Linked DNA regions of Homo sapiens. The protein of the gene in region 1 purifies or fractionates together with the protein of each later gene. This does not show direct contact. Each region holds a gene or a part of one and is shown in the gene's direction. Other genes may lie near its edges.

Region 1 (3,500 bases):
TAAGAGATGCATTATATGGTAAAGTCAGTGGTTAAGGAATTATAAAGTGTCAGTTTGTACATCAATTTTGTCATTATCTTGATGTGGTCTTGTTCAAATCATGAAGCATCTCTGAACTTCAATATAATAGGCTTATATGAGTTCTAATAGCCCTTCAAATTCTGTTTTGTGATGCTTACTGCAATAAGACATGTTGTGACTCTTCTACTATAATAATAAAAACTCACATGTGCACTACACATGCACACACACACATAAAATGTTTACCTTATAAAATATATTGAAATCTGCTTTATTTCTATAGAGACTAATAAGGAACTCTTAGCAGATGCTATTGGAAGAGGTATAATAAAGGGGTCAATTAAAACACAATTTAAATGTCACCAAGGTAAAAAAAATTTTTTTCAAGACTAATATTTATGGTTTATTCATATTCCCGGAGTTAAATTAAGTATGAACCTTTAATGACAATAGTACCAATATGTTAGTATTATATAGGTGAAATTCTAAATGAATATCCTCCTATAATTAAACACATACACATACTCAGATTTGGTAATGTTTACCTTTCAAAATATATTGATATCTGTTTTATTTATATAGAGACTGATAAGGAACACTTAGCAGATGATACTGGAAGAGGTATAATAAAGGGATCAATCAATGCACAACTAAAGGGTCACCAAAGTAAGAAAAAGAATTTTTCACATCTAATATTTATGGCTGATTGATATTCCCTGAGTTAAATTAAGTATAGACCTTTAATAACAAAACTACCTATATTATAGTGTTACATAAGTAAAATTATTCATGAATATCCTCCTATAATTAAACACAAAAACACACACAAGTATGGTAATGATAATCTTACAAAATATACTGAAATCTGTTTTATTTCTATAGAGACTGATAAGAACTTCTTTGCCTATGCTACTGGAAGAGGTCTAATGAAGGAGTCAACCACGACACAATTAAAAAGTCACCCAGGTAAGAGAAAACAATTTCAAGACTAATATTTATGGTTTATTTATATTCCTGGAGTTAAATTAAGTGTGGACATTTAATGGCAATAGTACCTATATGTTGGTATTACACAGGTAAAATTCTTCATGAATACCCTTCCATAATTACACACACACACACACACACACACACATACACACACACACAGATACACACAGAGGTATGGTAATGTTTACCTTATAAAATATATTGAAATCTGTTTTATTTCAATAGAGACTGATAAGGAATTCTTGGCAGATGCTATTGGAAGAGGTATAATAATAGGGCCAATCACTACACAACTGAAGAGTCACCGAGGTAAGAGAAAGAATTTTTCAAGTCTAATATTTAGGCTTATTTATATTCCCTGAGTTAAATTGAAGTATAGACCTTTAATGACAACAGTACCTGTATCATAGTACTTTCCATAGCAAAAGATGCTATTGGAAGACATATAATAAAGGGACTATCAATGCACAATTAAAGAGTCACCAGGGTAAGAAAAAGAATTTTTGAGTCTAATATTTGTGACCTATTTATGTTCCCTGAGTTAAGTATAGACCTTTAATGACAACAGTGTCTACATGTTATTATTACATAGGTACCTATATCATAGTGTTACATTGGTGAAATTCTTCATGAATATCCTTCTATAATTAGTTAAACACACACGTATACACATGTATGGTAATGTTTACCTTATAAAGTATTTTGAAATCTGTTTAATTCTATAGAGACTGATAAAGAACTCTTAAAAGATGCTATTGGAAGAGATATAATAAAGGGACCAATCAGTGCACAATTAAAGAGTCACCAGGGTAAGAAAAATAATTTTTGAGTCTAATATTTGTGACCTATTTATGTTCCCTGAGTTAAATTAAGTATAGACATTTAATGACAATAGTGCCTACATGTTAGTGTTACATAGGTAAAATTCATCATGAATATCCTTTAATTAAGCTCTAGCATTTACTATCAGTGGAACATTAGCATATTATTGGTTTTAAAACTCATCCATTTGAAAAGTAATGCATAAAAATTCAGTGTTACAGTTACCTTAGAGTAGTCTCAATGTAGGCATTTCCAAAGCTATTCTACTTACTTTTGTTTCTGAAAAGTGATATTTAATTAGCAAAAGCAGAAAGGCAAAAGCACAAAGGCTAGCTGAAGACTGCGATGACAAGAGGAGTATAACACATAATTATTTCACTGGTTATCCATTCCTTCTATTTGATAAAAATGTCAGGCAAATTTATAAAATCTCACCTGCAATACAGTACTTTATTTGTGTTACATAATTCAGAGATTACATTACTGGCTTTCATCTTGGTGTAAGGGTGTTATGTAGTTATACAATTTTCTTTATCTCTGGTGTGATACAAAAAGAGGCAGACAGCTTAACAGAGAAATAAGGTAAAGAGACACATTCGAAGCCGGCCCTCTAAAACCAATGTTATCCAAGGTACTGGATGCATGTTCAAGGCTCTGCCCCTTGGAGAGCAGCAGTAGCACTTCACACTACAGGCAAGAGACTTTAGTACAATAGCCCAGTCACATCGCTATGCAAATAAATAAGGAGAGAACAATGACAAGCCCCAGATAGAGGAGGAGGAAATCAGTACCTGGAGATGCTACAATATACTACGGAAACTGTCAAAACTTGAGCAAAAATTATTAACATGCAAAGAAACAGTGAAGTGTGACCTACACCAAGGAAAAGGGCATGCCACAATAACTGTTTGTGAGAGTTCCAGGTGTTGGACCTAGCCAACGAAACCTCAAAGCACTTATTATAAGTGTGTTCTTAGAGTTAAAGGAAATTATTCTTAAGGAAGAAAAGGAAGGTAACAGAGATATCAGCAAATAATATAGAAATTTCAAAAGACAACACAGCAAAACCCTATCTCTACAAAAAATACAAAAATTAGCCAGGCATGGTGGTGCACACCTGTAGTCCCAGCTACTTGGAGAGGCCAAGGCGGGGGACCACTTGAGCCCAGGAGGTTGAAACTGCAGTCAGCCATGTTCACACCTCTGCACTCCAGCCTGAGTGACAGAACAAGATCCTGTCTCTAAAAAAAAAAAGGAAAAGAAAAGAAAAAGAAATTTCAAAAGAAAAAAGAACTAAAATACATGTGTAACATAAATGGTTACCTTAAAAAGTGTTTTGAAATGTGTTTTATGTCTATAGAGACTGATGTAGAACCCTTGACAAATGCCATTGGTTCAAGTAAAACAATTGGTGAGATAAAGACACAACTAAGGACTCACTATGGTAAGAATAATAATTTTAAGTCTAATATTTACAGTTTATCTTCTCTGGGGTTTAAGTATGAATCTTTAATGATAACAGTACCTATATGTTAATATTTCATGGGCAAATGTCTTCATGAATTTTCTCATATAATTAGTTAAACTCTCGTATTATCAATGGGAAATTAGCTAGAAAGTTTTAAAACCTCTAGACAATGATTTTAAAAAATATGAGGTTTATAATT
Region 2 (3,500 bases), on another chromosome or scaffold:
TATTCACTTTCCTTGTGGAAATAAGTTTTGGAAGCAGAGGACCAAATTCTTGGCGACAGTACACCAAGGGTATTGACAAGTTATTTTAAGAAAGTGGCACTGTGTTCAATGAGCCTGTATTCTTTTATATTATAGAATCTACCTTGGAAACAACTTACCACCCTTGTAACTTCCTGGGTATTGCTAAGACATTTTGATTATTGTCCAGAATCCCTTGATTCCGTTTTTTTTTTTTCCTCTGGACCCTAATTTGACCTTTTAGTCTCCAGAATGATTATAACTGTGATTTCCTTGATCATTGGTAGGAAAGGTATCATTTAGAGCTTCCTTATGAATAAATAGTACAAGTGCAAGAAGAATTGAATAGAATCCTATCAGAGACCACTCTTTACTGTCATGAGTTGTGGTAAACCATCCATCCTGCCCTGAAAATGCAAAATTCTTGAGTTAATATAGATCAGTTCCTAAAATTACAAGAGTGATAGTCATGTATTTTTGGGTTCTAACTTAGGAGTTGGGCTGTGTGTATTAATATTTGAACTTGTGGGTAATATGTTTTTTATTAAACATGTTGAACTTTTTATTGATAAATTTCACAACATGATAATTGAATTTATGTTCTTTTATAGGAGTCCTCTCAAGAGAATAAAACTGTGTCAGAGGCTGAATCAAGAATCTTTTGGTTGGGACTTATTGCCTGTCCAGTACTGTGGGTGATATTTGCTTTTAGTGCACTCTTCTCCTTCAGAGTAAAGTGGTTGGTGAGTATCAGTGTAGAACTTTCAAATAATCCATTAAGATGTCTGATGGTAATCATAGGAAGCAACAACTACAACTGAGTCCTTATCATTAGGGACCTATCTTGAATAGGCAGCTTCATCATGTAATTCCCAAGTTTTGCTTCCCAACTTTACCTTTCTCTATAATACTGGAGAAGAGATCCTAAAAAACCCCTTCCCACCAGTTTTCTAGATTATTAGTGGTCTTTTCTGGAAATAATGGTTGGTAACCTATTGCTGCCTAACAAATCACTCCAAAACATAGTGGCTTAGAGCAACAACAGCCATTATCTCACAGTTTCTATGGGTCAGGATCTTGGGAAGGGCTCTGCTGGGAGATTCTGGCTTGGGGTCTTGAGTAGTTGTAGTCAGACAGTAGTTGGAATGATGGGGGTTGTGAGCCATCTCCTCTTCATGAGGTCCCATGGCCTCTCCACATGTTTTTCCCTGTGCCTTCGTTTGGGCTTCTTCATGGCATGGTGGCCTCATGGTGGTGGGACTGCTTACGTGGCAGCCCAGTACTTCACTTGTGGGGTGTTCTAGCTCGCAAGCTTTTACAATCTAGCTAAGATGTCATAGCATCGCTTCTGCTGCCCACTCACATTCAAGGAAATGGGAATTAGGCTCTGCTCTTGATAAGGAATAAGAAGGTGCTAGAAGACTTTGTGGAAGAGGAGATATTGTTGCTGCTGTCTTTGGAAAATATAGTTTGTCACTTGACCCAATTTGTGAGTCTTACTCTTTTTTATATCTCATATTATTTTTTCTTATTCTATCTTATATCTGATATGAATAAATATTGTGTGAATTTTCACACAATATTTATTGATATCAGATATATTTTGGCCTTAATTATGTTTTTCCTCCTAATTTGTAGTATTTTCTTAGTCCTATTTTGCGATATAGATTCTTTTTTTCTTTGTGTGTGCTCATACATTCATACTTTCCTTCTTTGGATTTGGAAGCTTATTGGAAGCTTATTGTCTTTTTTCAGTTCTTCTGGTAGTTACCTTTAATTACTTTATATGTTTATATCATTACCCTCTTTCATGAATTAGGAAATTTATTCAGTATTTATGGAGTTCCTGCTCTGGAAAATGGGAAACTTTACGCTAATATGGTTTCTTTAACTTCTCCCTCCTCCTACCTCTAGAGTTTTGCTTATTATAGTCTTATTTTAGTCCTTCTAGTGGTTTTCTTTGTAACATTAATTAATGTACTTAAACCTGTTTATTGACTTAATAGACTCTGTTTAGAAAGGGAAGAAAATAAACACTCATATTCCTTCCTATGAGTTTCCTCCTTTCTCTCTTGTTTGTTCCAATGTTATTTTTGTGTTACCAAGTTTTATAATAGTTATCTTTTGAAAACATATTTCTTACTGGTTGTTTAGTCTTTGATCTGTTTTTTAAAAAAGTCGATTCATTGCCTATCACCAGTCTTACTGCAGCTTCTCCTTTTACTTATTGGTTGGCTACATTTTCTTTTGACTCATGTTTAAACATATGAGCCTATTGACTATTCTTAAATGATGACCTGGCTGGATTAATATTCTTGGGTCACAGTTTGTTTCTTTTTGGAAGATGCTATTCCATCATTTTCTTTCACTGAATATCTTGGAGAAGTCTGAGGCCAGGCTTACTTAACCTTTGTAATCTCTCCTCATAAGGTGTTTTTTTTTTTAGTTCATGTAACCCAGATGTATCTGTATTTATCTTTCCATATCAAGTTTTCTGGAGTCTGTGCCTTTCTGACAGGCAGACCAAAGTTTTGCTTGGAATCAGGAAAATTTTTTCTGTTAAATCTTTGCATTTATTTATGTTCTATGGTTTGACCTTTCATTTTGAAGTACCAGTTACGTTTATGTTGGATCATTTTTATTTGTTCTCATCTACTATTTTCTTGTTGCTTTAATTATTCATCTTTTCCTTATTTATTCAGCAATTTTAAGAGTTCACTCTTATGTCAGAGCTGTCTGGAGACACAGGGGGATAAGTTAGGGGACAGTAAACAAGTTGACTGCTCCAGTAGAGCTTATGTTCTAGTGGAAGGTAGACAAACAGTAAAAAATACAACAGGGGATGTTAGTTAATGATACAAAGTAATGGGGTAGAGAGTGCAGAGGAGAGAACAGTAACTATTTTAAGTGCTCAGCTAAGGCTTCTCTCTGTATTTCCTTAGCTTTGTCAGCTCCGTTTTCATCTCCTGTTATCTCACCCTCATGCTTTTTGAGTTCTTTTCTTTAGGTTTTTCTGTAGGGTGAAATAGTCCGAGGAATGCTTTTATTTTGGTGGGGTTTTTTTCTTTTCGAGTAGATTCTTCACCTATCTTCTGTATACTATGCTTCTTTTTTCTTTTTTCACTATAGTTTTGCATAAATGCACTTCCCTTTTTCCTTATCCATTTTGCTTATCCTTACAGTGACAGTCCTGTCCAGCCCTTCTCTTTCTGCTGGTTTAGTGCGGGTGAATCCCCCTTGACCACCTTCTCCTGATGTCTGAGGCACGTGGCTGCTGCTCTGAGCTGGAGTTGCAGTGCTGGGTTTGGTGGCCTGAAGACACAGGTGTGATGTGCGATGTGGAGAACTTGCCAGGCTCTTGCTCTCTTGGCTGGGCTGCCTGGTTTTGCGTTCTCTTCCTTAGTGGGGCTCTTGTCTGCTGGTTGGCTGTGCACTCTCTTCTGGTTCTTCCCTTCTGCTTTGGATTGTTTGTAAGACCTTAG
Region 3 (3,500 bases), on another chromosome or scaffold:
TTCTCTTTGGTCAAGGTGAATAGTTTAATGTAGCAGTAAATGAGAACTGGTTTCATTGCTTTGGTCAAACTTTTTAATAAATAATAATATGCACTTACAATATATCAACTTCCCTGGCAAGCGCTTAACATGCATTATTGAATCCTGAGGCCAGCGAGGTGACAACTATAGCTGGCCCCCACCCAGCACAGTAAAAAATCTGTCTATAACTTTTGACTCCCCCAACACTTAACTCCTACTAGCCTACTATTGACCGGAAGCCTTATGATAACGTAAACATAGCATAATATAAACAGTTAACAGATAACATAAGCAGTTGACTTATACATACTTTTATGCCCCATGTATTATGTATTTTATAATTAAGTAGAGAAATCAAGTAAGCTAGAGAAAACAAAATATTAAGAAAATCATAAGGAAGAGAAAATATATTTGCTATTCATTAAGTGGAAGTGGATCATCATAAAGGCCTTCATCCCCATCATCTTCATGTTGAGGAGGAGGAGGAAGAGGAAGGGTTGGTCTCGCTGTCTCAGGGGTGCCAGAGGTGGAAGAAAATTCACATATAAGTGGACCTGCACAATTCAAACCTATGTTCTTCCAGGTCAACTATGTAATGCCCGTTTTTCAAAAGAGGAAACTGAGTCTCAGAGAAACTAAATCACTTGTTTGCAGTGAGATAGTGATGACTACAATGGGGATGATAGTAGCAGACTTCAGCATAGTGTGTACTCTGAGCCAGATACTGTTCTAAGTGATTTTCTGGATTAATGCATTTCAGGAATGCATTCAGTCTTCATAATGACTTATTGGGCAGGTACCATGCTCGTACCCATTTTCCATAGGAGAAAACTAAGGCACAGAGATGACACATTTACTTGCCAAAGGGCATATGGTCAGGAAGTGACCAAGCTCTGGCTCTAGAGTCTGTGTTCTTATTCATTCCACTTTGACATCCAGGATCACTCAACTGCCACATGACTGAGCCAGGAATGCAAACCCACTAGGTCTCTCTGCTGTTTAAACCTGTGTATGCTTCTCTGCCCTGCCTCCTAAGTCAGAAGCATCCTTTGGCTTGTTGCATTAGGGAGGTTCAGGGAGCTGTAGCCTTGTCTCTACTCCTGATTAAACTCCTGTTTCCCTAGACTGGTGGTAGTTCCTGGGTCCTTACGGTAAAGTCTTATGCTTGAGAGTTAGGCAATCAACCAGCCTCTCAGCCATCAACTGACAAAGAAGGGACTGGATTCTGTTTGCAAGACTGGCAGCCCAGGGGCCACTTATCACTAATAAAAAGGACTATTTTGATCCTGGACTTGGAGCCTCCAATTTCTTGGACTTCGTGTGTTTCATCTCTCTTGGGAAGGATGAGTCCAGGCAAAGCCAGAGTCTTGTGGCAGCCTTATTCTCCATCCATCCCATGTCTTTTCTTTTGCCTGAGTTCTCTCTCTGTGGCCTCAGTAGCCTCTAGCACCCCAAGACCATGCCCAACAGAGGACTTATTAACCTCAAACAGATACCTTCATGCTAGGGTTTCTTAGCCCCAGTACTATTGACATGTGGAGCAGATAATTCTGTGTTCTCAGGGGGCTGTCCTGTGTGTTGTAGGATATTTAGCAGCATTCCTGGCCTCTACCCACTAGATGACAGTAGAACCCTTCACACTCCAGTTGTGACAACTAAAAATGTCTCCAGAAGTTGCCAAATGTCCCCTTCAGGTCAAAATTATCCCTGGTTGCGAACTGCTTTTTATGCAGTGGTGTTAGGGGAGACTTCAATTGTTAGTCTTGGAATGACAGCTCTGTGAGGTCAGGGAGTTTTATCTATATTTTACTGTATCCTCACCACCTAGAGCAGTGCTTTGTACATAATGTAAGAGCTCAGTAAATACTTGCTGAATGAATAGATGGATGGATGGGTGAATACTAAATGATGGGGTGTGTGGACTTTGGTCTACTTTATACATGGTATCATGAGGATCATTGATTTAATGATAGATGATTTTAATTGAGTGCTTACATACCATATAACAAGCACTGTTTCAAATTCTTTACCTATAATACCTCAACGAATCCTTTAAACCACCTTATGAGGTAAGTACAGTGTTTGTCATTTTACAGATGAGAAAGTTGAGGCACACAAAGGTCACATGACTTGCCCAGGGTCACCGAGCTAGCAAGTGGCAGAGCCAGGATACAAACACAAGCCAGTGTGATTCCAGAGACTGCCTGGCGTCTCCACCAGGATGCTCTGGAGCTTGGCATCCTTTTTCCCATTACTGCCCAAGAAACTGTTATTGTTCTAATGTTGGCATTGTGGCAATTATAATTAGGATTTGCATGTCAGACACTAACTCATTCATCGTCAATCCTCAGAGTTCTGCTGGACAAAATATGCTCTGTCACTTCTGAAGAATCCGTAGCCAGCAGGGACTCCTGTCTGGCCAGAGGTAAGAGGACTGCTTAGTGCTGAGCCATGTTCAAACGTGAGAATCTCTTCTCTCTGCCTCACTGCTGGGCTGTGACCAAAGAGAATCGCAGAGGGGACTTGACTTTCCTACCTTTATGGGAAAGGGAACAGTGGACCCCAGAGCTTCTTAGTGGGGTTATGGCTCATTTTTAGCAAAAGGGATGTTCCAGGATCAGAACTGGGGAGGCAGAGTGACTTTTGAGATCATCCAAGGGGGCAATAAGAGCAATAGCCAGTGTTCGTTGAGGCTTTCCCAGATACTGTGATGAGCTCAACAAACATTTCCTCAATTTACCTTCATATTACAGAGAGTTAGATATTGTTATCCTCTCCATTCCACAGATGAAGACATTGAAGCTTAGAAGGGTTAAGTTGCTTTTCCAAGCTCTGGAAAGTAGTCCACTAGTGAACAGAAAAACAGGGGATTAGAACACAGGTTCACACGTTTGACTGACCCTGAAATCTGCTCGCTTCGTTAAGACGAGAATATCCAGATGTCACTATCAGGTAGCCCAAAGACATGCCAGTAGGACGGTTTTGCTATTTTGCTTAACGCCTTCCCTTCCTCTTTTTTTCTTCCTTTCTTCTTCCTCGCTTCTCTCTGTCTCCATCTATTGTGAGAGATTGGGCACATAGGCCCAGAGACCACAGATTTAATAAGATGGGGACTGAGTTATCTTGGACTCACAGCCTCATAGGTATAACTGACATGAAAACATAATTTTCTAATAAAGGTCTAGATGGGTGTAATGGAAAAATAGACAATGAAGTGACAAATACAGGAGCCTTCACAGATGTGCATGACAATGGTAATACGTAATAAAAACAGGCTGGAAAATACACTAATTTCACCACTAGGGGTTAAAACTGGCTGTGATAGATTATTAAAAAGTACAACTGTTTGGATAGATTGGAATTGGACACTGCAGAGAACAGCTACTACCTGGGACCTTCTCCCCCAGAGAAAGAGCGCGTCTTAAGGAGAAGGAAGATGTGGATGATACTGGGTTTAGATCTTGAATAATAGCTTTTCT
Region 4 (3,500 bases), on another chromosome or scaffold:
TCCCTCAGAAAAAATGTAAATGAATCTATGCACGGAGAATTTTGCACACAATCCCATGAGGTTTTTGTACATACGCTGAAGTCCTTTCATGCACCCCAAATCCAGAGTCCCTCAATTTACTACAGTCATTCACATAACTTCATGGTCTCTTATCCTCAAAGTAGAACACATCTTTTCCTTACTTGCTATTTTTCATGGCTTGTATTTTTTAGTCCAACATCTTATCTTTGGTACGCTCTAAGATAGAAGAACAAAAAATTAAAAATAGTGTATCTCATCCTCACCAAATCTGCCTCGTTTGATGATTTATAGCATTGAGTGTTTAGATTGGGTTTCAAGTCAATCCAGAGTAGGCATCTTCCTTTGCCCTCCCCACAGGGCTGACAAATGGTTATTTTCCTTCCAATAGATTGAATGTCACAGCTAAAGTTGCCTCTTGTAGCTGTGCTATTATCAAATAGATGGAATATAGGAATATACTGGAACATTTGAGAAGGGGTCAGGAAGAGAGAGGAAGAAAGCTGAAAGTAGAACAGGTCAGAAGAGGGCCTCCCGAGCCGTGTCTGGGATAGCAGAAGTATCTCCGTCTCTCCCGTGTCAGTACTTCTGTTTCTCAAGCATGTCTCATATCCGGCTGTGAGCTTTCCTTATAAATATGTGGAGTGAGAGACTCACTTCTGACTCCTTTGTAAAGTTCATAAGGGTTTACCATTGGCAAATATATGCCTTTGAAAGGGAAATTTGAAGATGGCTCTGTACCTGTCCTGTACTACAGGTTATTACAAAGGTTTGTCTGTATAACATATCATACTAAATAAAGTCCAAAATAACACAGCCAATGGGAAGGCTTGTTCTCTAGCACAAATATATTAAGACAATTCTACAATATGTCAATATATGTTCATATATATTTCATCATTTTTAATAAATCTAAACAACTTATTTCAATGTTTTGCCTACCCTGCATTCTTATGTTTTAAAGGTGATTTGTTTCAATGATCTTCATTTTTCAATTATTTTAGGATATTCTGATGCTGGGTGCAGTGGGAGCTTTTGGCTGGAGTGGGACCATTGTCCAGAAGACATCTCATGGCCATTTGATCTTTCCTAAACAAGCCTTTGACCAAATTCTGCAGGACAGAAATCACAGTTCATATTTAGGTAAGGCATGGTAATAATTGGCTCAGCAAACTTAAGTTCCCTTGCTTTAAACCAGCTCTTTGTTGAATCTCAGGGTGAGTTCAGCAAAATCCTTGAACTGTCATCTAATTATCATATTTATTACACATACATATGTTGTCTCTTTGCCAATCGGGCCTTAAGGCATAACTACTTATTGGAATACTATATTATACTCACTAGTTTCTTCTGGCTGGTCAAGTGGTTGTAATTCCTGGAACATGATTGTGTTCCTCCAAAATGGAAATAGTTCCCAAAAGTCAATACAGTAAGTGATAGTCTTATAGTATTTTAGAGCTCTTAGTCTTCTTGTTCTTATAATAAGCAGCCACTGATTTTGCAGACTTACTATGGGACAGTTCCTGAGCTGCTAGTCTATCTACATAAACATTTAAATCTTTCCAACAAGTCTTTCAGGGATGTTTTGCCTTTGAGAGATAGCAAGATTAACAACTTGTCTAACGTTCAACAACCTAGTAAGCGGCAAATCCAGAATCTGAACCTCAGCCTGTTTCCAAGACCTGTGTTCTTTCTACTGTGCAACACTACCTTTTAAATACATTTATTCATTCGTTCAAGAAATATTTTTTGAATGCCAGGTTCACAGGTGGCTGATGAGAACAGCGTGGAATCTAGAGGCAGTTTTATAGGTAGAAGTCCCACCTGCAAAGGGAAGTGCTGCAGGTCAAAGGACAGGAGCAATTCATCTTAGAAAAAGGAAGACATGTCCTCAGTGATGTATTCAGGAGCACTAGAAACTTTGCATCACATCTAACACAAAAGGATCTCTGGTCACCTTTACTCACTTCTTTTAACTTTATTTTGCTCAGATAGTCAATGTTAATCACTCTGTTGCTCCTTCCCTTTTAGGTTACTCTGTGGCTGCAATTTCTACTGGAGAAAGCACTCACTTTGTTGCTGGTGCTCCTCGGGCAAATTATACCGGCCAGATAGTGCTATATAGTGTGAATGAGAATGGCAATATCACGGTTATTCAGGCTCACCGAGGTGACCAGGTAAATCTCACTGTTTAGCAGGTGAAATTAATTTTAGGGGCAACTGGGCAGGTGGGGAGTCAGGTGAACAGAAATGGAAAACAACATGGCCTGAGTGCCTACTCTGTGATTGGCTCTGTAATCTGAGTTTACTTAGTGTATTCCTTAAATCATCACAACAATACCAAGAAGACAGCCCTCCCTTTTGACAACTTACTGGGAATTTAGCTAGCTTTCTAAGGTCACACAGCGTCCATGGATTGAGCTGTCATTAAAACTCAGTCCTTTCTGGACTCAGAGGCTGTCCTGAATGATTACATCCCCTTCATGTTTTTGACTCCCTGGATTAATAATGCATGGATATTATTTAGTTGTGATGGCAGGCATGTAACCACTGCTTTGTAGGTAAGCACACACTAGGAACAAGGATTTGGAGAGGAAATAATGAGAAGAAGGGAGCAGCACAACATTATAAGGACTGAACTTTTACATCTGAACCTGTCAGAATGTCCTGTTGGTTTTGAAGATTCTAAAAGTAAAACAATTATCTTCTCTGCCACTTTCAGCTGATGGGTGACAGTTTGGTAGTTAGACCCTATGATGAATCCCAGATATGGCCCACTACAGCAAAGATCTGTTGCTAGAGCAAAGGCCAGCTGATTGCTTCCTGTTTCCTTACTAAACAGTTTTGACCCAGGGGCTTGACACACATTTAAAATGAGCATCACTAATCCCTGACAACCAACAAAAAGTGGTTTCCTTCTTTAAGCTGGAGAAACTTACAAAGATTTCTCTTCTCTGAGATTAAGTGTGATCCTGCTGTTCCTATGGATTTTCTAGGAGTAAGAAGACCCGAGTTCTTGACTTCCGTGACCACAAATTAGCTATGGTCACATACTTTTCTCTCTTTTTTAATATTTTAAAGAAGTTCTTCTTTAATTTAGAAAATAACAGTGACAGTGTTATGGAAGGAATCATTTCTTAGTCATTTCTAAATCCTCAAAAAGTGTTCACATAGGCATGCATTGAACGTTGTTGAATGGGATGAAGGTTCAAAGTCTCAGCTTTTCTTATTTTAATTTATCTCCACCTTGTCCTCCTGTCCCAATCTATCCAGCAACTACTTACCTGTCTCATATCATGCCATGTACACTTACATCATCATATGTGCTTTCCCACTTCCCTCTGCCTAGAAAACTCCATGTCCTTCTTACTTTGCAATTTGAATGATATTTTAACTTTCTAAGCCTTCCTGACTCTCCTGCTCTCTGATCACTCAGCCTTTGGGACTTGCCTCTATTACAATTTATTTTACTATAGAAGCTT

The links.
Region 2: the proteins of CCDC7 (region 1) and TVP23B fractionate together in Homo sapiens (co-fractionation; one large-scale study listed by BioGRID). This does not show direct contact.
Region 3: the proteins of CCDC7 (region 1) and KAZN fractionate together in Homo sapiens (co-fractionation; one large-scale study listed by BioGRID). This does not show direct contact.
Region 4: the proteins of CCDC7 (region 1) and ITGA2 fractionate together in Homo sapiens (co-fractionation; one large-scale study listed by BioGRID). This does not show direct contact.

What each region holds. Positions count from the first base shown.
Region 1 is NC_000010.11:32,844,640-32,848,139, forward strand, and holds part of CCDC7 (uncharacterized protein C10orf68), read left to right. Parts: intron 1-603; coding exon 604-687; intron 688-903; coding exon 904-987; intron 988-1,236; coding exon 1,237-1,320; intron 1,321-1,736; coding exon 1,737-1,820; intron 1,821-3,193; coding exon 3,194-3,277; intron 3,278-3,500. UniProt on the Homo sapiens protein: May play a role in tumorigenesis.
Region 2 is NC_000017.11:18,798,183-18,801,682, forward strand, and holds part of TVP23B (Golgi apparatus membrane protein TVP23 homolog B), read left to right. Parts: intron 1-629; coding exon 630-761; intron 762-3,200; coding exon of another isoform or gene 3,201-3,203; exon of another isoform or gene 3,204-3,247; intron 3,248-3,500.
Region 3 is NC_000001.11:14,605,185-14,608,684, forward strand, and holds part of KAZN (kazrin), read left to right. Parts: intron 1-3,500. UniProt on the Homo sapiens protein: Component of the cornified envelope of keratinocytes. May be involved in the interplay between adherens junctions and desmosomes. The function in the nucleus is not known.
Region 4 is NC_000005.10:53,058,852-53,062,351, forward strand, and holds part of ITGA2 (integrin alpha-2 precursor), read left to right. Parts: intron 1-1,022; coding exon 1,023-1,161; intron 1,162-2,049; coding exon 2,050-2,195; intron 2,196-3,500. UniProt on the Homo sapiens protein: Integrin alpha-2/beta-1 is a receptor for laminin, collagen, collagen C-propeptides, fibronectin and E-cadherin. It recognizes the proline-hydroxylated sequence G-F-P-G-E-R in collagen.